Homo sapiens: one gene and its partners. The protein of the gene in region 7 interacts with the protein of the main gene of each other region in a biochemical or structural test. Each region holds a gene or a part of one and is shown on either strand. Other genes may lie near its edges.

Evidence for each region.
Region 1: the proteins of UBE2N (region 7) and SIAH2 form a complex in vitro, tested with the Homo sapiens proteins (one study listed by BioGRID).
Region 2: the proteins of UBE2N (region 7) and ARIH2 form a complex in vitro, tested with the Homo sapiens proteins (one study listed by BioGRID).
Region 3: the proteins of UBE2N (region 7) and UBE3A form a complex in vitro, tested with the Homo sapiens proteins (one study listed by BioGRID).
Region 4: the proteins of UBE2N (region 7) and RFFL form a complex in vitro, tested with the Homo sapiens proteins (one study listed by BioGRID).
Region 5: the proteins of UBE2N (region 7) and MALT1 form a complex in vitro, tested with the Homo sapiens proteins (one study listed by BioGRID).
Region 6: the proteins of UBE2N (region 7) and XIAP form a complex in vitro, tested with the Homo sapiens proteins (one study listed by BioGRID).

Annotation. Positions count from the first base shown.
Region 1 is NC_000003.12:150,740,625-150,743,397, forward strand, and holds the end of SIAH2 (E3 ubiquitin-protein ligase SIAH2), read right to left. Parts: intron 2,075-2,773; coding exon 1,517-2,074; 3' UTR 501-1,516; downstream 1-500. UniProt on the Homo sapiens protein: E3 ubiquitin-protein ligase that mediates ubiquitination and subsequent proteasomal degradation of target proteins.
Region 2 is NC_000003.12:48,977,842-48,981,341, reverse strand, and holds part of ARIH2 (E3 ubiquitin-protein ligase ARIH2), read right to left. Parts: intron 1,861-3,500; coding exon 1,709-1,860; intron 990-1,708; coding exon 846-989; intron 1-845.
Region 3 is NC_000015.10:25,355,525-25,359,024, forward strand, and holds part of UBE3A (ubiquitin-protein ligase E3A), read right to left. Parts: intron 1,373-3,500; coding exon 1,167-1,372; intron 533-1,166; coding exon 368-532; intron 1-367. UniProt on the Homo sapiens protein: E3 ubiquitin-protein ligase which accepts ubiquitin from an E2 ubiquitin-conjugating enzyme in the form of a thioester and transfers it to its substrates.
Region 4 is NC_000017.11:35,053,708-35,057,207, forward strand, and holds part of RFFL (E3 ubiquitin-protein ligase rififylin), read right to left. Parts: intron 788-3,500; exon of another isoform or gene 681-787; intron 1-680.
Region 5 is NC_000018.10:58,747,965-58,751,464, reverse strand, and holds part of MALT1 (mucosa-associated lymphoid tissue lymphoma translocation protein 1), read right to left. Parts: 3' UTR 1-3,500. UniProt on the Homo sapiens protein: Protease that enhances BCL10-induced activation: acts via formation of CBM complexes that channel adaptive and innate immune signaling downstream of CARD domain-containing proteins (CARD9, CARD11 and CARD14) to activate NF-kappa-B and MAP kinase p38 pathways which stimulate expression of genes encoding pro-inflammatory cytokines and chemokines.
Region 6 is NC_000023.11:123,898,053-123,901,552, reverse strand, and holds part of XIAP (E3 ubiquitin-protein ligase XIAP), read right to left. Parts: intron 1,061-3,500; coding exon 860-1,060; intron 1-859.
Region 7 is NC_000012.12:93,431,948-93,435,447, forward strand, and holds part of UBE2N (ubiquitin-conjugating enzyme E2 N), read right to left. Parts: intron 1-3,500. UniProt on the Homo sapiens protein: The UBE2V1-UBE2N and UBE2V2-UBE2N heterodimers catalyze the synthesis of non-canonical 'Lys-63'-linked polyubiquitin chains. This type of polyubiquitination does not lead to protein degradation by the proteasome.

The DNA of each region.
Region 1 (2,773 bases), on a different chromosome or scaffold from region 7:
TGCACTCCAGCCTCTGTCTCAAAAAAAAAAAAAAAAAAAAAGAAAGAAATTGGGACACTGAGGTAAGCAGCCTTCAATCCTTGCTGAGCATTTGGCCCTAATCCTCTAAATTCTTTTGAGAGTTTAGGGTTGGGACTGAGGGAGTGGGTCAGCTTGGATCAACGCCAGCACTCTGGATGTCAGCAGTGGCCAAGCGTCTTCCTTCTGACTCTGTAAAGCTGGAGCAATCCTCTTATTGCACAGGTACTGGCACTGTCAGATAGAAACGACAGCCCTGGGAGGAGACCTGCAGCACTGACAGTCAGTGGTTCAGACACATGAGCCCGGACCCCAGTGCTGTCATGGACCCGTGCCATGACCTTGGCCCAATGACTGTTTCCACAGTGGAAACAAACAGTGAAAGTTCCAACCCCAGATGTAGTGACGAAGGTTCATTGCACTTGCACACAGTAGATGCTCAATAAATACCCATTACTCAATTAGGGAAATGAAGCACAATATCCATTTTTGGAAAATATTTATTAAAAAACTAGTGAATGTGGCAGAAAAACAAAACCAACACACAGCTTTAAATAGCAAGCATATGACACACCGGTTATAAAGCTTTTCCAACTCTACTGATTTAGTCTTTCACACCAGCTACTGTTGAGGAGGGCTTCCGAGGGAAGCCACGTGTAAACGGGTCATCTGTACTAGTGGTGAGCAAAACTAATTACATGAGAACTATCAATGGCCATATGACTTGCTTTCCTAGGCAATCCACCCAAAACATAGGTGAGTGGCCAAATCTCAGGCGTGCGTTCATGTGGATCTATAGTTCTAGTTTTAATTTGAGGGTTGGGGGAAGTTAGGGGATGAAACAGTAGAAAGACAAACAGTATCGGCAGAGGGCAACCTTAAAGCACCTTTAAAATCTGGACCCTTTCCCACAATTTAACCCAGTAATTCTCAAACATTACTGTTGAAAAGAATCACCTGATGAGACTGTTAAATTGGCAGGCTCCCTAAATCTGCAATTTTAAGATAAGCACTCCGGGTGATTCAGTGTCTATTAGCCAGCCATCCAATTTCAGAAACACTGTTTAAAATGCATTAAAACAATTCCTACCTCCCACAAACAAAAGTAAAGGAATCTGCTGACAGTCACTGTGCTTTTGTCAATGTCAAGGGACCAATATGGGAAGGCAGGCAGGAAGGGGCCTCCCATTCCTAACACACTGATCTATAGAAGCCCTGTGCAACAGCCTGTCAAGTGTTGTTTAGGGAGTAAATACAATTCAATAAGAGTTGTTTTAGATCACAGAACAGCATCCAAATCACCAACAGGCCAACCCCATTCATCCCAGGTTAATGAACTTTGTTGGGTCGAAGCCAGATGGGACACTGCTGTTCAAACAAAACACGGGTAATTGTGGGTCCTGACTTGTGAAGACATATGGAATAAAACATCTATAAAAACCTTTATTAAACATAGAGCACTATGCCCAAATAATTTTGAAGGTTTACGAAAGTCACATCATGGACAACATGTAGAAATAGTAACATTGATTCCAAGGTTCCCATTATCTGCAAAAAGATGTGCTATGGCTGTGTCGAAAACAAGGCAGTCGCTGTTCATGATGGCCGCAGCCACACCGTCATGAATCGAACGGGGCGTGGCCTCCCAGGTCAATCTCCGCCGGTTCCCATTCAACTCCAGTCTGTAGGCAAAGTTCTCGGCTTGCTTGCGGGTGCCAATGAGCAGGACGATGGCAAAAAACTGCTGGTGGCCTTCGTACTTCTCTTGTTTCTCCAGCACCAGCATGAAGTGATGGCCAAAACATGACTGCATCATCACCCAGTCGACAGCCCCTGGCAAGTTAATGTCTGTAGCTAGAAAGACGATGTCTTCTCCCTGAAGGGTGGTAATGCTCTTGTGGGCGTGCATGAGATGGGACATCACAGCTTCCAGGGACCCCTGCCACTTGCAGGAAGCACCAGGACATGGGCAGGAGTAGGGACGGTATTCACATATGTCTTCATGTTCTGGTTTCTCCGTATGGTGCAGGGTCAGGGAACAGCCCGTGGTGGCATACTGCAAAGAAAGAAATGCATTGAGCCATTGGGCCTTCTCAAAACTTCTATTGCTTCAACCCTCTATGAGTACTTAACTACTCCATTTTCCTGGGCTTAAACTGTGTTCTTAACTACTTTTGCTCAAAGCAAGTGAAATATTCAAGACTAAAAGTCTCCGTCTCTATTCATCATCAATGCTGTCATGCATAAAATGAAGGGTATTTCCTGAACCAGAAATACGCTGTTTTCCATGCCCCCTGTTCCGCTGTCAAAGGGATCAGAACTAAAGTTCTCTTACTGTGCACATCTCAAAATTGTTGAGCAAGCCCTATAAAAGCTGGTCTTCCCCATATTTTCTGTGAAGCTGTTTTTTAAAGAATTCAATTGCTTGGGTGGTGGGGATGGGGTTGGGCAAGGAATATTATATTATCCCAAGATTAGTTTTCACATATAGACAATATTAACAACAGTATAATTCTGTCGTCCCCCTCCACTGCTTTCTGGCTCAAACTGGTGACTGGCAGGCAGGCCGTGGGGAAGGCTGCCCTTTGGTTCCTTGCTCTTTGCTGCTGGCATCACCAGGCTAGGGCAGCGGAGGCCTGGAGACCCCTTCATACAGCTAGAAATATTACCCCACTGCATCCTTTTGACCTTCCCTCTGGGGGGCTTTGCCCATATTTTTTGGGTGGAAGGAAATCACATCCAAGAGCTACTTAAC
Region 2 (3,500 bases), on a different chromosome or scaffold from region 7:
TTTTTTTTTTGAAACAAGGTTTTGTTCTGTTGCCCAGGCTGGAGTGCAGTGGTGCAATCCCCACTCACTGCAAACTCTGCCTCCCAGACTCAAGCGATCCTCCCACCTCAGCCTTCCAAGTAGCCAGGACTACAGGTGTGCATCACCACACCAGGCGAACGTTTGTATTTTTTTTGTAGAGACGGGGTTTTCTCATGTTGCCCAGGCTGGTCTCAAACTCCTGGGCTCAAGCAATGCACCTGCCTTGGCCTTCCGAAGTGCTGGGATCATAGGCGTGAGACACTGCACCCTGCCCAATCTTTTTTTTTTTTTTTTTTTTTTTTTTGACAGTCTTGCTTTGTCACCCAGGCTGGAGTGCAATGGTGTGATCTCGGCTCACTGCAGCCTCTGACTCCCAGGTTCAAGCAATTCTCGTGCCTCAGCCTCCCAAGTAGCTGGAACTACAGGCATGCACCACCATGCCCAGCTAATTTTTGTATTTTTATTAGAGACAGGATTTCACCATGTTGGCCAGGCTGGTCTCAAACTCCTGACCTCAAGTGATCAGACAATCTTTTATTTTCCTTTGAGTGATACATAAACAGGACAAAAGGAGAAGAAAAGTGCTCTAGTTTTCCCTGCAGGCAGAGGCAGTGCAACACTCTTATAAATCCCCTGGACATCCATCAGAGGACTGGGTCCTTAATGGGCACAGCACATGAAAATGTGGATCCACAAGCAGAAGCATGAAAGGCTGCACAGGGTGCTAAAATACCCTCTTTCAACAGAGCTTCCCACTATCAGAGGTCTGTGCCTGACGGAGCCAGGCACTGGACCAGGGATAAGATGAGTGAAGTGGTAGATACCTTGGCCAAGAGCTTGGCAGCATTCTGTAGGTACTGCCAGTCGATCCATGTCCCCAGATTGTTCATGACCCTCTCCTGAATCTTCTCGTGAATCCGCTGGTATGTCTGTGCCTCTAGCTGCAAGCTTTTATTGTGGTTTTCCCACTACAGGGCACAGAAGAAGAAGAAAACCACAGGAGTCCCATGAAGGTGCAGAGGTCTACACAGGAGTTCAGGATAGACACCTTGCTGGCAGGACATGGCCACAGACTCCTCTAACTTATTCCCCAAAGTGCAAGAGCAGGTCTTCTTCAGTCCATCCTTCTAACCTGTCCAGAGCAGCTGTATGCTTACTGCCAGATCGCTCTACCCTTCTGGGGCAACAGGACTCGAGCCCTGAGGACTCTGCAAAGCTAGGCCCCTGATGGTCTACTATGCTTAGAGACCATTATGCATGGGGCTCTTTGGGCTTCTAAAGGGCTCCCTGGGAGAAACTGCCTTCCAAATCTGACTACTAAGATGATACTATGGGAACAGATTGTGAGGACAGAAAGAAAAAAATAAATAAAAATTAAAAACGTAGAAAAAAGAAAAAAAAAAAAAGATGGTACTAGATGGAAAAGACTGTCTGATGGCCCTTCATTGTCCTTCAATCCATCATTCAACCAAGGTCAGTACCAGGTCCTTCCCTGTTGGCTGGGGATATACCCTATAGAGCTTGAAAGGCACATCTATAGAGGCAGCACCAGGGATACTGCAGGAGCTCCATTCACTGACTTCTATGTGCACAGGCTAGCTCTGTCTACCAGTCCCTGGGAATCCCACCAGCAGGCCAAGTGGAAGAAGCCTACCCTGTAGGGGAAGGTACAGGAGAGGACACCTACCCTCTCAAAGTAGAATAAGTACTTCTTGAGGGCTTCCCTCGCCTGGGCTTGTTGGCTCTGGTTCACGATGTCAGGATTCTCCTTGTAACGACTGCACTCATAGTATTCACTGCCATGAGTCTTCCAATCTCCTAGACACATCCAGCAGAAGTCTGTGCAGAACAGAGGAAGAGTCATTTACATCTACAAGACAACTCCACTTTCCTCCATAGGCAGAGGAGTGAGACAGACAGACCCTGCTCCCAAAGGGGTCACCTGAACACAACTTCCCAAGGGTGCCTCTTTCCCGAAGGAATGTGCACCTCTCATCCCTGTCACATCCTACTGTCCTTGTAGCCTGTACTTGCTGATAGGAACAAAAGCCTATGGATAATTTCTATTCCATGAGCACATGTGCCATGCGCCTTATTAATCTAACACAGGCAGATGCTGACCATACAGACTACTGGTCTGCTATGTCAATGCCACTATAAGAAGGAGGAACTAGTCCAACTGAGGCCGACCTGACTGTCTTAAACGCACATCATCAGTACAAACTGACCTCCCTACTGCTTCCTACCCTCACACTTGTCCTAGAAAGATTTTTGTATATGAAACTAAGAATAAAGGCTTTCCCCCTTTTTCTTCTATTTTAAAAAACACATTTCTTATTTTTCTTTTTCTTTTTTTTTTTGAGACAGAGTCTCACTCTGTCACCCAGGCTGGAGTGCAGTGGCGCGATCTTGGCTTACTGCAACCTCTGCATCCCAGGTTCAAGCGATTCTCTTGCCTCAGCCTCCCGAGTAGCTGGGACTACAGGTGCCTGCCAACATGCTGGCTAATTTTTGTATTTTTAGTAGAGATGGGGTTTCACCATGTTGGCCAGGCTGGTCTCGAGAACCCCCAGTGTTCAGTGATTCGCCCATCTCTGCCTCTCAAAGTGCTGGGATTATAGGCGTGAGCCACTGCGCCTGGCAAATAACACATTTCTATAAAACCTAGAGCTATCCAATGGTTCATAATCAGAATTATGATTCTGCTTTTGCGGTAGCTCACACCTGTAATACCAGCACTCTGGGAGGCCAAGGCGGATGGATCACCTGAGGTCAGGAATTTGAGACCAGCCTGGCCAACATGGTGAAACACCCGTCTCTACCAAAAAAAAAAAAAATATATATATATATATATACACACACACACACACACACACACACACACACACACACACACACATACACAAATTAGCCAGGTGTGGTGGCACATGCCAGTAGCTACTTGGGAGGCTGAAGCACGAGAACTGGTTGAACCTGTAGGGCGGAGGTTGTGAGCCGAGATTACACCACTGCACTCCAGCCTAGGTGACAGAGCGAGACTGTGTCTCAAAAAAAAAAAAAAAAATCCCCTATATGTTCAAAAAATTATTGTTAGATGCTCAAAGAATTACTGCAGTCTAATGGAGAGAAGCCAACCACAGTTTTGTTGGATGAACAATGGCCTGTTGATATTCTGCATTCCATGAGCACATGGGCTATGTGCCTTGTTATATCTGTGTCAAGGCTGCTATGAGAAGCAAAACTTGTCTGAAGTCCTCCTGGTTGTCTAGAACACACATTGTTCTAATAATACCTTATTAGATTTTATATCTGGCCTATTCTGCCTCTTCCAGACCCTGACAATGGTAAATCCTGTTTCCCAGGATTCACTCTCCAGGGATAACTTGGCTTACTGACTTCCCCAAAAATGAGGCTCTTGAATCATTTTAGGGAAGCCAAAGCAAAACCCGGAGACCCAGAGGTTGTTCAATTTTTCTCCT
Region 3 (3,500 bases), on a different chromosome or scaffold from region 7:
ATATACATGTGTAAATTAAATGTAATTTTTATTTGTTCTGTGATAAAGACCTTAATCATGAGGTTCCTGCTTACAGCTTAATACAAGAAACACCCTGCTTCTTGCTTTATACTACAACCACACTTAGCTATTAACTATCTCCTGCTTCATGTCCTCTTTCTCTAAAAGGGGCTTTAGTGCCCAACTGTGTGCTTTCATACCAACTTATATCCAAGATTTAGAAAAGTGGACTCTAGCATTTACATAAACTTAGTTACTTGTTTTTTTTTTGTACAGACTATATTAGATACTTCTTTAAAAATTATAAGCATACATGCTTTGAAAGTGTTAATGAAGAGACAAAATGTGACATAAAAACATTTATTACCTTCCTGTTTTCATTTGTAATTGGAATTTTATCACCATTTTCCTTTAGATCATACATCATTGGGTTACCAAAAAGATCTGTCTGTGATATCTGGAAAGTGATCATCATGTCATCTTCCACATTCCCTTCATACTCCAATAAATCTTTTAAACTCTGATATAGAACCTAGCAACCAGAAATGGTAAATTGAGGCCACCATAGAACTACAAAATACAACAAATAATTTATATCACTCTTCTTAGAAGACAACAAAAATCTTATCAATAAAAATTGTAAAAAGTGTAGACAGTATCCCTCCAGTCCCCCAAATAGTTTCCAACCTATAAAAGAAAGATTGTCAGTCACTGTGATGTCCCATTCTCTGCTGAGAAACCCCATACCACCAATTTAGCAATAGAATTCACACTGTGCTCTATGAGAAATTCTGTGGTGTCTCAAGGTGGGGGTGGGGGTGGTAGGAGCAGGCACACTCGTTGTAACTACCAAGACCCTTAGCCAGGGCTACTCTGATTTTTACCTATCTCTTAAGATTTCACTAAAACACAAACAAAATGTTTAGAAACACTTCTCTATGAAATCAATCTTACAAAAGCTTCGTGCTGACAGCAATATATAAAAATGTCCCCCTTTGAGTTTTTAAGTGTTTCTGGTACTTCGGTCAGATTAAAACATTTTTATCTTATTGATAAGAGTATCAACAAAGATTCTAAACAAAAACTTTAAAATTTTGACATAAATTAAATTTTTGCATTTAAATAAAATCTAAGAGACTGAATTAAAAAAATGACAAAGAACTTACTGGGTGAGAGTCTCCCAAGTCACGAAAAGTTCCTTTTTTCCCCATTAGCTTCCTGTAGACAACCATGGGAAAATGTACATCCAGTATACAGTTATTGTAAATAGCCAGACCCAGTACTATGCCAATCAGAGTAAACTGACCCTCAGTTTCAAAAGAAGATGGATTAAACCAAAACAATTTTGTAGATTCATCGTATGTGAACATACCTATAAGAAATGATTTTTAAAAATACATTACTTTTGTATTTTATTAAGGACTGATGAATAATACAAATATAAACTTAAAATAATTATGCATATAAAACATTTAAAATATATGTAATTAGGCATGCAACATTGATTTCTATTATATTAGCACTTGAGAAAACAATGTCCACATATATCTGCTATAAATTGGGGTGAATGGTGATATGTAATTTTATGAAGCCAAAGGAATAAAGTAGTAAGTAATTTGGTGGCATCGGGTAGAAAAATACGTTAATTAAATTCAAGCTTTCTAATTTTCTACTAACACATAAGAAAAGTTATATTCATGCTTTATCCACCCATAGCTGAAAAATAAACATAAAAAAACAAAAAATGGCTACATTTCCAAAGTGTTTCATTTATAAAAATATAATTACTTATATCTGTACCACACGTACTATTTTTGAAAACAATTTTTCATTTTTTTCCTTGAGATGGAGTCTCGCTCTGTTACCCAGGGTGGGCTGGAGTGGCACGATCTCAGCTCACTGCAACCTCTGCCTCCTAGGTTCAAACAATTCTCCTGCCTCAGCCTCCTGAGTAGCTAGGACTACAGGTGTGCACCACCACGCCAGCTAATTTTTGTATTTTTAGTAGAGAAGGGGTTTCACCATGTTTGCCAGGATGGTCTCAACCTCTTGACCTCGTGATCTGCCAGCCTCAGCCTCCCAAAGTGCTGGGATTACAGGCGTGAGCCACCACACCTGGCCTAAAAAACAATTTTTAATCACAGTAAAGAAAGGTTCGTTTTTTCAAAATTAGACAATGGTGCCATGAAATTTTTCTAGCATTTTCCTAATAAAATCAGATGATCTGAAATACATAAACCTGGATAAATCTGATGAACTTAGATAAACAAAGCTATTCAATACACATGTTAATTATGGGCCAATACGTAAAAGAAAAGTAGTTTCGTAGTCTTTCAATTTCACATGGTCTTCACTATGCAAGCCCCAATCATGGAGGCTTTTTTTTTTTTTTTTTTTTTTGAGACGGTCTCGCTCTGTCGCCCAAGCTGGAGTGCAGCAGCACTCAGCTTAGTGCAAGCTCCGCCTCCCGGGTTCATGCCATTCTCTGGCCTCAGCCTCCGGAGTAGTTGGGACTACAGGCGCCTGCGTGGAGGCCTTTTTTATATCACTCATTGGAAAATTGGGGCCCGGTGTGGTAGTTCACACCTGTAATCCCAGCACTTTGGGGAGGCTGAGGCAGGCAGATCACTTGAGCTCAGGAGTTCAAGACCAGCCTGGGCAAGATGGAGAAACCCCATCTCTACAAAAACACAAAAAATAAGCTGGGTGTGGTAGCATGTGCCTATAGTCTCAGCTACTTGAGAGGGTGATGCATGGGGATGGTTTGAGTCTTCAGCCTGGGAGGTGGAGGTTGCAGTGAGCCGAGACAGAACCACTACACTCCAGCCTGGGCCTCAGAGCCAGATCCTGCCTCCCTCCACCAAAAAATAAAAGATTAAAAAAAAGGAAAATTGGAATCTTTGGAATGAGTACTACTAAAAATTGATTTCTTCCCTTTTAAATGACTAAGGAAAAAAATTTTAATTGAATTTAAATCATTTTACTACATGTTTAGTTGCTACTGTGAAACAATGAAAACATCTTAAGAATTAAGTCTGAAAAAAATCTGTAATTTCCAATAGAAAAGTAGAGCTTAGAAATCAGAAATCAAATTATACAGTATATAAGTATTTTAACCTGTTTATAAGAATTTTAAAATCTTTGAAAATGTCATTGTCACTTTAAGTTTAAAAATAAGGAGCTTTAACATGTTTCCTTGATCACTAGGAGTATGAATTAAGCTTAGGACATTTTCTGAATGCAAAATGGTTTGAAAATTAAACAATTCATATTTGAGTTTCATGGTTTCTATCTAAACATTTTTTTTACAGGCCAAGTTACAACATCCATGGAAATGCTTTTAGTTATAAGTATGGTATTAACAGGATCAAGAACAGCTGACAAATAATTACAATTAATAAATTTGTTCAAGCTGACAATGGTGTGTCTAAAAAATTAATGAATTTAATAAAATGTCACAAATGCCCTTCCTTGGAACCAAGAGCAACAAGCTATAAGTT
Region 4 (3,500 bases), on a different chromosome or scaffold from region 7:
TTATGGGAAACAATAATCTTTTTTGTAACTATATTCTCCCCCACAAACCATTCTATCTTATAAATCCATGCTCACCAAGCAAGCTTGATATTATTAAATTTGATTGCCAGATCTCTTGATATTGAAAAGCAATTATCCTAACAAATTCCAGAATCCCGTTAACGGAAAAGGAATCCTTCATTCTAAAATAATAAATTGGCATTCCATTCTGAGCTCAATCACTCAAGTCTGAATACAATCCTGTCTTCAAGACTAATTATTTCCAGGTTCTCCACAAAATACATTTTGTGACCCAAGACTAGACTGACGACACAGTGACCAAAATCCTGAGGGGTCATCCTGAGAAGCTAGATTGGCACCACCCTGGCCAGCCCTACCTAATGCCACCCTCGCTCTACAAGCTAACTTGTATAATACTTTCCCATACTTCTCCACCTTCCACCCCTGTCATACCCTTCAATCAAGCACTATAGTGAAGCACTTTACCTTCCTCTCTAACCGTGTAGAGGTCAAATACACCATCTTATCCATTTTTGCATTTTCCTCCATATCCCAATATAACTTGCATCAAAAGAACCACAATAAATATTTACTGTAAAACACAATTTTGCTTAACAACACAAGCCATTGCATTCCACCATTCCCACAAGCTGAGGCCTCTTTCTGATTTATTTTTCCCACATCAGATGGGTAATGCACTGACTTTGTAGTAACAAGGCTTGATGGAGGCACATCTCATACATGTGCATGAAAATCCAATCATTACACTTATGAACAACAAAATAATCCCCTTTCTAATTTACTGAACTCTTACTCTATCTTTTATCTTCCCCTCCCTCCCCCACCTCTCCATTCCTAAACTGCCAGATTACTATAGAAAAATCAGAAGACTTTATTTAACTGGGTTGCTAACAAATTCATACAGCTGGGGTAAGCCATCACTGGGCTCTAAAAACCTTTCATTCCTCTCTAGCTGATGTCCTGATAGGGCTTTCCAAAGAGCAGTGTCATGCAAGGTTTAGGAGCATGGGGCCTGGGTCAGACAGAACTCATAGTCTTCTTTCTGTGTGACCTGTTAAGGTGATTAATTCCCTAAGCGTCATTTTTCTCATCTGTAAAATGAAGTACCTAAAAGAGGTCATTCACACAAATCCTTAACACTAACACAGTGACAGGCTTAGAGTAGGTGCTTAGTAAACACCGATCCAACAGCTTTTTTTTTTTTTTTGAGATTGAGTCTTGCTTTGTTGCCCAGGCTGGAGTGCAGTGGCGCGATTTTGGCTCACTGCAAGCTCCACCTCCCGGGTTCACGCCATTCTCCTGCCTCAGCCTCCTGAGTAGCTGGGACTACGGGTGCCCACCAGCACGCCTGGCCAATTTTTTTGTATTTTTAGTAGACACGGGGTTTCACCGTGTTAGCCAAGATGGTCTCGATCTCCTGACCTCGTGATCCACTTGCCTCGGCCTCCCAAAGTGCTGGGATTACAGGCGTGAGCCACAGCGCCCGGCCAATGGTCACCAATGATCTTCTGATGGATAAATGTGTGATTCTTTCCTATGTCCTCAACCTTCATGACTCCCTGAAGCCCCATGCACCCAAAACCTACCCAAATTCTTCATTATGAAGCTGTCTTCAGAGGGTTACCAAGAACTATGGACAGAAATATAACTTTAATTAAGCATTAGGCCAGGTGCGATGGCTCACCTGTAATCCCAGCACTTTGGGAGGCCAAGGTGGGCGGATCACCTGAGGTCAGGAGTTTGAGACCAGCCTGGCCAAAACGGTGAAAACCCATCTCTACTAAAAATACAAAATTAGCCAGGTGTGGTGGCACACACCTGTAGTCTAGCTACTCAGGAGGCTGAGGCAGGAGAATCACTTGAACCCAGGAGGCAGAGGTTGCAGTGAGCCGAGATCATGCCATTGCACTCCAGCCTGGGCCACAAGAGCAAAACTCCATCTCAAAAAAAAACAAACAAACAAACAAACAAAAAAAAAACATTAATCAGGCTGGATTTTGACACATTTCCTTGTAACTGAAAGTCACACAGCGCTAGATACTGACCATTTGCATCCCTATTGTTTCTAAAGATAGTATCTCTGACATTAGAAGCATAAGGCTTTTTTTTTAAGAATTGCTTGAGATATTTTTCAGATCCCAAATTCTGGTAAAACAGCTGATGCCAACCAGTTTGAAGACCCTCAGAGAGAAATAAAATCAGCATAATACAGTTTTTTCATCTCCGGGTCCCATTACTTCACCTTTCTCTCTCTGACCACCCAACAATCTCCACATTCCAGCCCACTCCAAAATCCTTAAAAACCCTAGCTCCAAACTCCTCAGGAGGACGGATTTGCAGTTCCCTCTCATCTCCTCATTCTGCAGCCCAACAAATAAACCCCGCCCCCAGGTCTTGGGTATTGACTTGCCACACATCAGACAGCACACTTACTCTGGATACACTTGAATTCCCCTTACAGACTCCTTCTCCCACACTGGCTCCCACTGCAAGCGTGGTAGCCTGACTTACCTTTGACATCAATGACCACTCTTGCTCCCTTATTTTCCTTCCCTGGTTCCTTCTTTTGCCCCCTACATAGGCCCTAGGGTTCTGTACTCCATACTCTTCCTTCTTCCTTTCCTTCTCTAGTGAATTTTACTTCTACTTTTTTTTTTTTTTTTTTTTGAGACAAAGTTTTGCTCTGTTGCCCAGGCTGGAATGCAGTGGCATGATCTCGGCTCACCACAACCTCCGCCTCCTGGGTTCAAATGATTCTCCTGCCTCAGCCTTCTGAGTAGCTGGGATTACAGGCATGCACCACCACGCCCGGCTAATTTTGTATTTTTAGTAGAGACGGGATTTCTCCATGTTGGTCAGGCTGGTCTCAAACTCCTGACCTCAGGTGATCTGCCCACTTCAGCCTCCCAAAGTGCTGGGATTACAGGCGTGAGCCACCATGCCCAGCCTGGTTCTACTTTTTAAATGCATCCTGCAACTATCCCGTTCTATGTCCACTGCCATATCCTGCCCTATCTGCGATGATCCTTCTCAAGAAGGGAGACAAACACTTCCTTACTGGTCCCTTCTTTGTGACTCTCTATTCTCTACAGAGTAGCCAGGGTAACCTTTTATTTAGAAAAAGAATCTTTGCTTGTCACTTTCTGTTTTAAGCCTTCAATGGTGTCCCACCACCCTTTTTTTTTTTCTTTTTCTTTTTTTTTGAGACAGAGTTTTCACTTTTGTTACCCAGGCTGGAGTACAGTGGTGCAACCTCGGCTCACTGCAACATCCACCTCCCGGGTTCCAACAATTCTCCTGCCTCAGCCTCCCGAGTAGCACGGATTACAGGCATAAGCCACCATGCCTGGCTAAAATTTTTTATATTTTTAGTAGAGATGGGGTTTCACCACGTTGACCAGGCTGGTCTCAAACTCCTGACCTCAGGTGATCCACCTGCCTCAGCCTCCCAAAGTGCTAGGATTACAGGTGTGAGCCAC
Region 5 (3,500 bases), on a different chromosome or scaffold from region 7:
GCTGAGACTATGTCGCTGCACTCCAGCCTGGGCGACAGAGCCAGGACTCTGTCTTAAAAAAAAAAAAATCAAATATACAGAAGAGTATAAAGGGGAAGTACGATTCTCCTGCCTCAGCCTCCCTAGTAGCTGGGATTACAGGTGTGTGCCACCATGCCCAGCTAATTTTTTTGTATTTTTAATAGAGACAGGGTTTTGCCATCTTGGTCAAGCTGGTCTTGAACTCCTGGGCTCAAGTGATCCGCCTTCATTGGCCTCCCAAAGTGCTGAGATTATAGGCGTGAGCCACCACACCCATCCTAAAACTAAAATTTTATGTTCAGTTCCTCACACTAGCTATTATTTCAACTGCTCAACAACCCCATGAGGCTAAAGGCTATCACACTGGGAGTGCGGATACCAAGCATCCCATCATCACAGCAAGTTCACTGGACAGTGCTGCTCGGTGGTAACCACAGCTGAGCACCTGCATGTTTGTTTGTTTTTTTATCAGATACATGATTTTTCAAAAATTTTTCTCCCATTCTGAGGGTTAACTTCACTTTCTTAATGGTGTCCTTTAAGGCGCTAAAGTTAATTTTGATGAAGTCCCATTTATCTACTGTTTGCCTTTGTTGCTTGTGCTTTTGGTATTATGTCTAAGAAACCATTCCTAAGCCCAACATCACAAAGATTTACTTCTGTTTTCTTCTAAGAGTTTAAACTCTTATATTGAGGTCTATGATCCATTTTGAGTTAGAATTTGTAATGTGGTAGGAAGGTAGGGATCCTTTTGCTGTGCACGTAGCTACCAGTTAGTTGTCCCAGCACCGTTTGTTGAAAAGACCACTCCTTCTCTATTGATGGTATTGGCATCCTTGTTGAAAACAAGTTGACCAGAAATGTATGGGTTTATTTCTGGATGTTCAGTTCCATTCCTCTGATCGATATGTCTATCCATATGCCTACACTGTCTTATTGTAGCTTGGTAGCACTTTTTGAAATTGGTACGTCTTCCAACTTTGTTCTTTTCCAAGGTTTTTTGGCTATTCTGGGTCCCCTGCGTTTCCCTACCAATTTTACCAGTTTGTCAATTTCTGCAAAAAATACAGCTAGGATTTTGATAGGAATTGTTGAATATGTAGACTAATTTGGGCAGCATTGCCATCTTACCAATATTCAGTCTTCCAATCCATGAACATGGATGTCTTTCCATTTATCTGGATCTTAATTTCTTTAAACGTGTTGGAGTTTTATTCTTGATGCTACTGTATATAGGATTTCTTTATTCTCATTTTCAGAATGTTTGCTGTTAGTAGAGAAATAAAACTGATCTTGTATCCTGCAACCTGTTGAACTCATTTATTACTTTTTATGGATTCTTTAGCATTTTCTATATACAACTATGTATCAACTGTGAATACATATAGTTTCACTTCTTTTGCAGTATAAACCTCTTTTCTTTATTAGCTTATTTGATTTTTAGATGTTGAACAAACCTTGAATTCCTAACCTAACTGCTGTGGCTAGAACTTCAAGTACAATGCTGAATAGAAGTAGTGCCGAGTGAACATCCTTGTCCTTCTTCCCAATCTTAAGGGGAAAACATTCAGCCTTCAGTCTATCACCATGAAGTATAATGTTAGGTGTGGGCTTTTCATAGATGTTATATTTATCATATCTAGGAAGATTCCTTTTATTCCTAAGTTTGTTGAGTGTTTTTATGAAAGAGTTTTGGATTTTATCAAATGCTGTAATAAGACAATCTGTGTGGGTTTTGTGCTTTATTAAATATGGTACAGTTGATCCTCATTATTCAAGGTTATGTATTTGTGAATTTACCAACTTGCTAAAATTTATAACCCTCAAATTGATATCCGTGGCACTTTTGCAGTCATTTGTGGATATGTGTAAATGGGTGAAAAATTTGAGTCACCCAGTACACATGTTCCCAGCTGAGGCTGAACAAGATGATGCTCTGCCTTCCTGCTTCAGTCTCATAGAGAAATGACTGGAGGGTGGAAATGGCAGGGGCAATTCTGTGTAGTACAAGAAGCTCTGGCTCCGGGGCCAGCTGGATGGGGTTTGAATTTCAGCTCTGACACCTGTTAGGGGGGTGCCTCAGGCATGTCACTTAACACTTCTGATACCTCACTTTCACTTCTGTAAAATAAGGTAGAATTTGCTAGGATGAATTAAGAATTCAAGCTCATAATGTGTGTGAGATAAACATATGTATACACACATATACACAAATACACTTTCTCCTAAAAGCAGTTGTTCCATATTTAATTCAGTGTTTATGGGAGAATATTCTGTAGAACATAATTACTGTGAATAATGAGAACTGACTGTATATTAGCTTATTTGATTTTTAGATGTTGAACCAACCTTGAATTCCTGGGATAAATTCCACTTGGTCATGATATAGAATCCTTTTTATAGGTTGCTGGATTCAGTTTGCTAATATTTTTGTTAATGATTTTTGTGTTTGTATTAATAAGGAATATTGGCTTATAGTTTTCTTGTGATGTCTAGTCTAGTATCAGGGTAATACTGACCTAGAGTAAGTTGGGAAGTGTTCTTTCCTCTCCTACTTTTAGAAACAGTGTGCAAAAAATTAGTGCTAATTTTAATGTTTGGCAGAATTCAACAATGCAGCCATCTAGGCCTGGGATTTTCTTTGTGAGACTTTTAAAATTACTAATTCAGTATTTTTCCTTGTTAATGCCAATTGCATTTTTAACCAACTTTTAGGTAGAGCCAAAGATAAGAGTATTATCTCATTAGGCCAGTGAAATTCAAGAAGAAAATACATATTATCAAGGAAGATGCTAAATATTTGGGAAATTCTGATAGGCAGCTATGAAAATTATCCATTATATCTTGATTCTTAACCTCTATCTAGCTTTAACAAACATTTTATCACTTCTCATGTGGTTTCATAATCTTATGAACAAGAAATTTCAGCCTGTTCTATAACAGATTTATATACAAACCTCTTAACTAAAACTTGCAGTGAAGTCCTTATAATCAAAAACTAAAGTTTGTACATTCCTTGAGATAATACACAGATATGTATCTGTATATATTTATATATATATAAATATATTTCACTCTATCTACAAACATAACACTTATCTCAGAACCTGTCAGGAAGGCAGTTGTGTAGTGGAAAAAATACTGGAATAGATTTCTGGAGGTCTCAGTTCTGGTGCCAGCTCTAACTTAGATGCCTTTCTGTGTTTCTTCCATGGATAAAATTAGGTTATGCCTGGTGATCGGCAAGGTTCTTTCTGGTGTTAAAAATACAATGACTTATTCTACAATAATGCCATTCCCATTGCTCTTACTTCAGAGTGGTCACAATGAAAATATTTTGTTATATACATATAAACATACACACCTCCATACTTCATTTGTATAGAACTATTCAACCAATTCACAAAATCTTAGAAAGAGGAAGTCTGTAATTAAATAATGTAATTTCAACATCTCAAAGTCCTGAAGTTTGCTATGAA
Region 6 (3,500 bases), on a different chromosome or scaffold from region 7:
GTAGGAGAATTCTCATCTTTTTGGAGGGAGGATGGTCAAGAGCTTAGAGAACTATTACAGGTAAAGTACCCAAAAGTGTACTCAGTTTGAAACTTCTTCTTTAACCTTCGATGTTGTTGGCAAGCACTACAGTGTCCATCATCCTTAAAGGAGAGATACATATATTTTGAGACAAGATCTTGCTCAGTTGCCCAGGCCGAAGTGTAGTGGCATGATCATGGCTCACTGCAGCCTTGACCTCCCTGGCTCAGGTGATCTTCCCCGCTCAGCCTCCCAAGGAGCTGGGACTACAGGCACACACCACCATGCCCGGCTAATTTTTGTATTTTTTGTAGAGACAGTTTCATTATGTTGTCCAGGCTGGTAGAACTCATATTTTTAATCTTTTTTCCATGATTAATGTAATGATATTTGGAAATGAGGCCTTTGGGAAGTAATTAGGTTTAGATGAGGTCATGAAGATGAGACCCCCCCATGATGGGATTAGTGTTCCTAAAAGTAGAGGAAAAGAGACCAGAGTACTTGCTCCATCTTGTCCCATCCAATCCCAACCCATGCCATGTGAGGACACAGTGAGAAGGCAGCCATCTGCAAGGTAGGAAGAGGGCCCTCATCAATAACCAAATCAGCCAGCACCTTGATTTTGGAGCCTCCAAAACTGTCAGAAATAAGTCTGTTGTTTAAGACACCTAGTCTATGGAATTTTATTATAGCAGCTTGAGCAGACTAACACACAGCATTAAGGTTACGTTTAAAAAATGTCCATATCCACCTGTCCCAGCCTCCCAAAGTGCTGGGATTACAGGTATGAGCCACCACATCTGGCCCTTTCTTGCTTTTTAAAAACAGCAATGCATACCTTTCTGTAATGAAGTCTGACTTGACTCATCTTGCATACTGTCTTTCTGAGCATTCACTAGATCTGCAACCAGAACCTCAAGTGATTTATAGTTGCTCCCAGATATCTGAATTTTTTCCTCCATTATTTTCTTAATGTCCTTGAAACTGAACCCCATTCGTATAGCTTCTTGTACCATAGGATTTTGGAAGATGGTATCATCTGAAATAAAAATTGGTGAGGAAAAAGAACATAGAATTTAAACAATTATTTTCATTATCACAACTCAATAGCAAAATATAGTTAAAATGAAAAAATTAAGGAGCAAGCGAAAGAATAAAAACAAACCAGCAAAGCAAAGCTGCTTTGGGAAGATTTTTTGAAGTATTCAGGCACTGAAAAATCACTTTCAGAATCTTACAATTAATTGTAAATGCAATGAGTATGTATTTTGTAGTGTTTGAAACGATGCAAGGTAAAATAGGCAAGAAAAAGGTTAAGTGCTTCAAAAATCTGAACTGTTTTGAATCTAGCTGTACTCATTAACAATTAACCTAAGTTACTTAAAGAGTGGATGTTGTTACTGAGTCACTAGCAATTATTTGGGGAAAATGATGGGAAATCAGGGAAGTCCCAGTCTATAACCTTGAATGTGTCAATTTCCTAGCTCTCAAACTTCGTTTCTGTAGCAGAGCGGGTAGGACTGAATAAAGCAAGAAAGTCAATGGAAACTTGTTTTTATGATACTTAAAGTAGGAACACAGCATGTGTAGGGAAGTGCTAGGAGAGGACACTTATACCCTCTGACTCATCAATTCCACTCTTGGGTATTAAAAATGAGTGTATATCTCTGCCAAAGATATGCACAAGAGTATTCATAGTAGTGTTATTTATAATAGCCCCAAACTGGAAACAACTCAAATGTCCATCATCAGGTGAACAGATACATAAATTGTGGTATATTCATACGCTACACAGCAAGAAAAAAAAAAAAAACTATTGCCACAGACAATATGGATGGATCTCATAGATATAATGAGCAAAACATAATCATAATTCATCATTATGACACAAAAGAGTACCTACTGCATGAGTCCATTTATAAGAACTTCAAAACTAATCTATGGTAATAAACAAAATTAATCTATGGTAATAGAAGCCAGAATATAACTTGGGGGTGGGTACTGATGGGGAAGGAGCATGAAAGAACTTTCTAGGGTTGTGGGAATGTTCTATATCTTAATCTGGGGGATAGTCACACAGATAAATATATATATTTTAACATATACATTTTAATATATATTTAACACATATTTAATATATATTTTAACATATATATGTTAAAATTCATCAAGTAGAAAACTTACGATTAGGGTACTTTAAGCACTTTATGTGTGTATGTGTGCGTGTGTATATATATACAAAATCATATATATATACAAAATCATATATATACAAAATCATATATATATACAAAATCATATATATATACAAAATCATATATATATACACAATCATATATATATAAAATCATATATATATAAAATCATATATATATATATATATATATTTTTTTTTTTTTTTTTTTTTTTTTTGAGACGTAGTCTCGCTCTGTCACCCAGGCCGGAGTGTAATGGCGCGTCTCGGCTCACTGCAACCTCCACCTCCCAGGTTCAAGCAATTCTCTTGCCTCAGCCTCTCGAGTAGCTGGGATTACAGGCATGCACCACCACGCCTGGCTAATTTTTTTGTATATTTAGTAGAGATGGGGTTTCACTATATTGGCCAGGCTGCTCTCGAACTCCTGACCTCGTGATCCACCTGCCTCAACTTCCCAAAGTGCTGGGATTACAGGCGTGAGCCACTGCGCCCGGCTACTGTATGTATATTATAGCTCAATAAATGTTTTTTGAAAGAGAGGAGGCTGGGTGCAGTGGCTCACACCTGTAATCCCAGCACTTTGGGGAGGCCAAGGGGGATTCCTTGAGGCCTGGAGTTTGAAACCACCCTGGTCAACAAAGTGTGACCCTATCTATATTAAAAAATAAAAATAAAAGATAAGGCTGGGCATGGTGGCCCACGTCTGTAGTCCCAGCATTTCGGGAGGCTAAGACGGGCAGATCGCTTGAGCCTAGGAGTTCAAAACCCCGTCTCTGCAAAAAATACCAAAAAATAAAAAAAAAAATTACCCGGGCATAGTGGTGGGCGCCTGTAGTCCCGGCTACTCAGGAGGCTGAGGCAGGAGAATGGCGTGACCCCCGGAGGTGGAGGTTGCGGTGAGCCGAGATCGCGCCACTGCACTCCAGCCTCGGTGACGGAGCGAGACTCCGTCTCAGAAAAACAAAAAAACAAAACAAACAAAAACAAACAAACAAAAAGAAAAACTCTGTTGGCAGGTTATAATACAGACAAAAGACCAGTTAGGAGACTACTACAATTGTCCAGTTGAAAAACAAGGAAGGGCCTGAACTAGAGCAGAATAAGTGGGAAAGTCTGAAGCAACATTAAAAAGGTGGAATCCATCAAATTTGATGATTAATTAAATGTAAAAGGATTACAGAGAGCAAAGAGCTTAGGAACAACATAAATTACTGGGCAACCTTGTGAACTGTGGTACTATTAACCAATACAGGAGAAAAAAGTGCAGGATTAGATTCAGTCT
Region 7 (3,500 bases):
CCTCGGCTGGGCGCGGTGGCTCCTGCCTGTAATCCCAGCACTCTGGGAGGCTGAGGCGGGCGGATCACGAGGTCAGGAGTTTGAGACCAGCCTGACCAACATGGTGAAACCCTGTCTCTACTAAAAATACCAAAATTAGCCGGGTGTGGTGGCGTGCACCTGTAATCCCAGCTACTCAGGAGGCTGAGGCAGGAGAATTGCTTGAACCCGGGAGGCAGAGGTTGCAGTGAGCCAAGTCACGTCACTGCATTCCAGCCTGGGCCACAGAAATTTGTTTCATGACTGTGTTTTCCATTACACAGGGATGCCTTTCTTGTTCACCTGGCTTACTGGTAAATGCATATTATGCATTCAATGAATGTCCAATTAATTGAACTGAAAAAAAATCTCATGAATGGATAATAAAGAGACACGCAAATCACAAGGTTACAGAAAACTGAAATTTGGCCTTGGGATCGGCCTATGTTACTAAAACCACTTTGTCCCTGCCTCATAGTAAGATGGTAATCTAGTTGTCTTTAAGAGTCACAAAAAAAAAAAAACAAAACAAAACAGCTACTTACTAACATTTTCCCGAGTATAAGCTATAATCTTAAGAAAGTTACAGAGCAATAAAAAAATCACCAATGGTTTCATGATATAAATTTGTTAGTTCTTTCTAGTGTTTCCTTAACTACAATGCCTTCAATCCCTAGAACTGTAAAGACTTTCAAAATATAAATTCATTTGCCCAAAATTAACCAAACTGACAGAGACATAATGTGAAGGTATTGAAAACTAAAAAAAAAATTGAAAATCTAAAGACAACATAGCCAGTTGTTTTAATGCAAAATATGTCAACCTTAGATTCTGAAACCAGTATCTAAAATTACTTTAAATTACAGTAGAATCCTAATTATTCAGAAGCATCTCAGTTACTGGCCAATTCAAAACCAAAAATGTCTGTGCCTAAGTACTCAAGAAATTTTAGAATAGCTTCATTCAGGTTTTTTTTTTTTTTTGAGACGGAGTCTTGCTCTGTTGCCCAGGCTGGAGTGCAGTGGGGTGATCTCCGCTCACTGCAAGCTCTGCTGCTCCCGGGTTCACACCATTCTCCTGCCTCAGCCTCCCGACTAGCTGGGACTACAGGCACCCACCACCACGCCCAGCTAATTTTTTTGTATTTTTAGTAGAGACGGGGTTTCACCATGTTAGCCAGGATGGTCTCGATCTCCTGACCTTGTGATCCTCCTGCCTCGGCCTCCCAAAGTGCTGGGATTACAGGCGTGAGCCACCGCGCCTGGCCAGGATTTTTAAAAAATATAAAATGCCCCCAATGGTGTCATGTAGCCCTTGAAAGAATGAATAATAATGAAGTATTTCTGTTGATTCTGAGGGCTCTTAACCAATTATCCAGTTCTTCCAACCACACAGTCATGTTTCTGCCACAAAAGACCCTAGGGCCATCAATCACTTCACTTGGGAAGAAATTTTAAAAGCTGCTAAGATTTTAGCTGAAGTTAAAAGATTCCCTATTATTTAATTGCCTAATTGGTATATCCACATTCATTCCTTCATATATTACATTTGCAAAGAAAATTTCAACTCTAATGAAACAACAGTCCAACTCGTTTTTCGCATACACACATAAGAATTCTTTTCCTTGATATAATATTATTACATAAACTATGCCTCTCATATTTATTTTGTTTTTAGAAAGCAGCACTGTATAAGATACGAATTTGGCACCTAAATCAGAACTCTGATTACTATAATTGTAATGTCAAAAGCCCCTGCTGGATGCTGCTGTCCTCATTTCCTTGTTTCTAGTATTTATTTCTATAGCACATATGCATCCATAGTTCATTATAACAGAAAACATAATGTGTGTTCAGAATCCATACAACTTGAATCTGTAGCATATTTTCTTCTTAAATCCATTTACACAGGTAAACTATCCTATAAGGTATAGGGAAAAAAGAAGAAGAACCGAATTGTACATCAGGAATCTGGTCATCCAACTTCTTTGGCCTACAAATTCCTCACCAGAGAAAGAAAAGGATAGAACAGATGTTCTCTAATGTGTAAAACTCTGGTGGCTCACTCCCGTAGTCCCAGCACTTTAGGAGGCCGAGGTGGGTGGATCACGAGGTCAGGAGATTGAAACCATCCTGGCCAACATGGTGAAACCCGTCTCTACTAAAAATAAAAAAAAATTAGCTGGGTGTGGTGGCGCGTGCCTGTAATTCCAGCTACTCGGGAGGCTGAGGCAGGAGAATCGCTTGAACCTGGGAGGTGGAGATTGCAGTTAGCCGAGTTCGTGCCACTGCACTCCAGCCTGGCGACAGAGCGAGACTCCGTCTCAACAAAAAAAAACTCTGGTTTTAAGAGTGGTCATTAACACGTGTGGAAAAAATTCCAAACTTGAGCAAAGCAAATGCATAACATTTCCAGTCACAGTCATTTAGCACAGTGAATACTAAAGTACTTGATAATTTGACAAAACTTAATTTCACTTGTGCAGGAGTTGATCAATCTGGACTAAAGGAACTGCTTGACACAGAGGAGCTTAAAAAAGAATACTGAACTGACTGCTATTTTTAACTTACTTTCAGTTATGCTCACATTTCATAATCAAAACATTAGATAGTATATTAAAACAGTATCTTTAGAGCCTGAAAGTTTAATCACTATCAAAAGCAGTTCAAGGATTCTTAACATGGAGCACATGGAGACCTAGGGAATCCACAAATAAACTTGGCAAGAATCTGAATCCCCAGAAGTCATACGTTAAAAAAAATAGCTTTTTTTCCTAGGAAGAGGTCAGAAAATTCTTAAGTGAGACAACTGAAAGAACTAAAGAACCACTGTTCCTAGTCAAATTTTTTACAAGTTTTTTCTTAAATTCCAAAGGTGATTTTAATTACAACTTATAACAAATCTGTCTTCATCATAATGAGTTTGTATTTATTTATTTATTTATTTATTTATTTAAGAGACAGGGTCTTGCCTCTATTACCCAGGCTGGGGTGCAGTGGTGCCACTAATAGCTCACTGCAGCCCCGGCCTCCTGGATTCAAGGGATCTTCCTGCCTCAGTCTTCTGTTAGGATTACTGCATGAACCACCATACCTGGCTAAGTTTCCCTGCCCCCACCTGGAGGTACATATATTTCTGAAACATCATGGTAACTTTTCCATGCCTTTTTTTAATTGGAAGAAAACATTATCAGACAAGTATTTTCAGAGCTTAAAACAACAGATAGGACAGGCGCGGTGACTCACACCTGTAGTTCCAGCACTTTGGGAGGCCGAGGTGGGCAGATCACCAAAGGTCAGGAGTTCGAGACCAGCCTGACCAACATGGTGAAACCCTGCCTCTACTAAAAATACAAAAATCAGCTGGGCGTGGTGGCATACACCTGTAATCCCAGCTACTAGGGAGGCTGAGGCAGGAGAATTGCTTGAACCCAGGGGGCAGAGGTTGCAGTTAGCCGAGATCACGCCATTGCACTCCAGCCT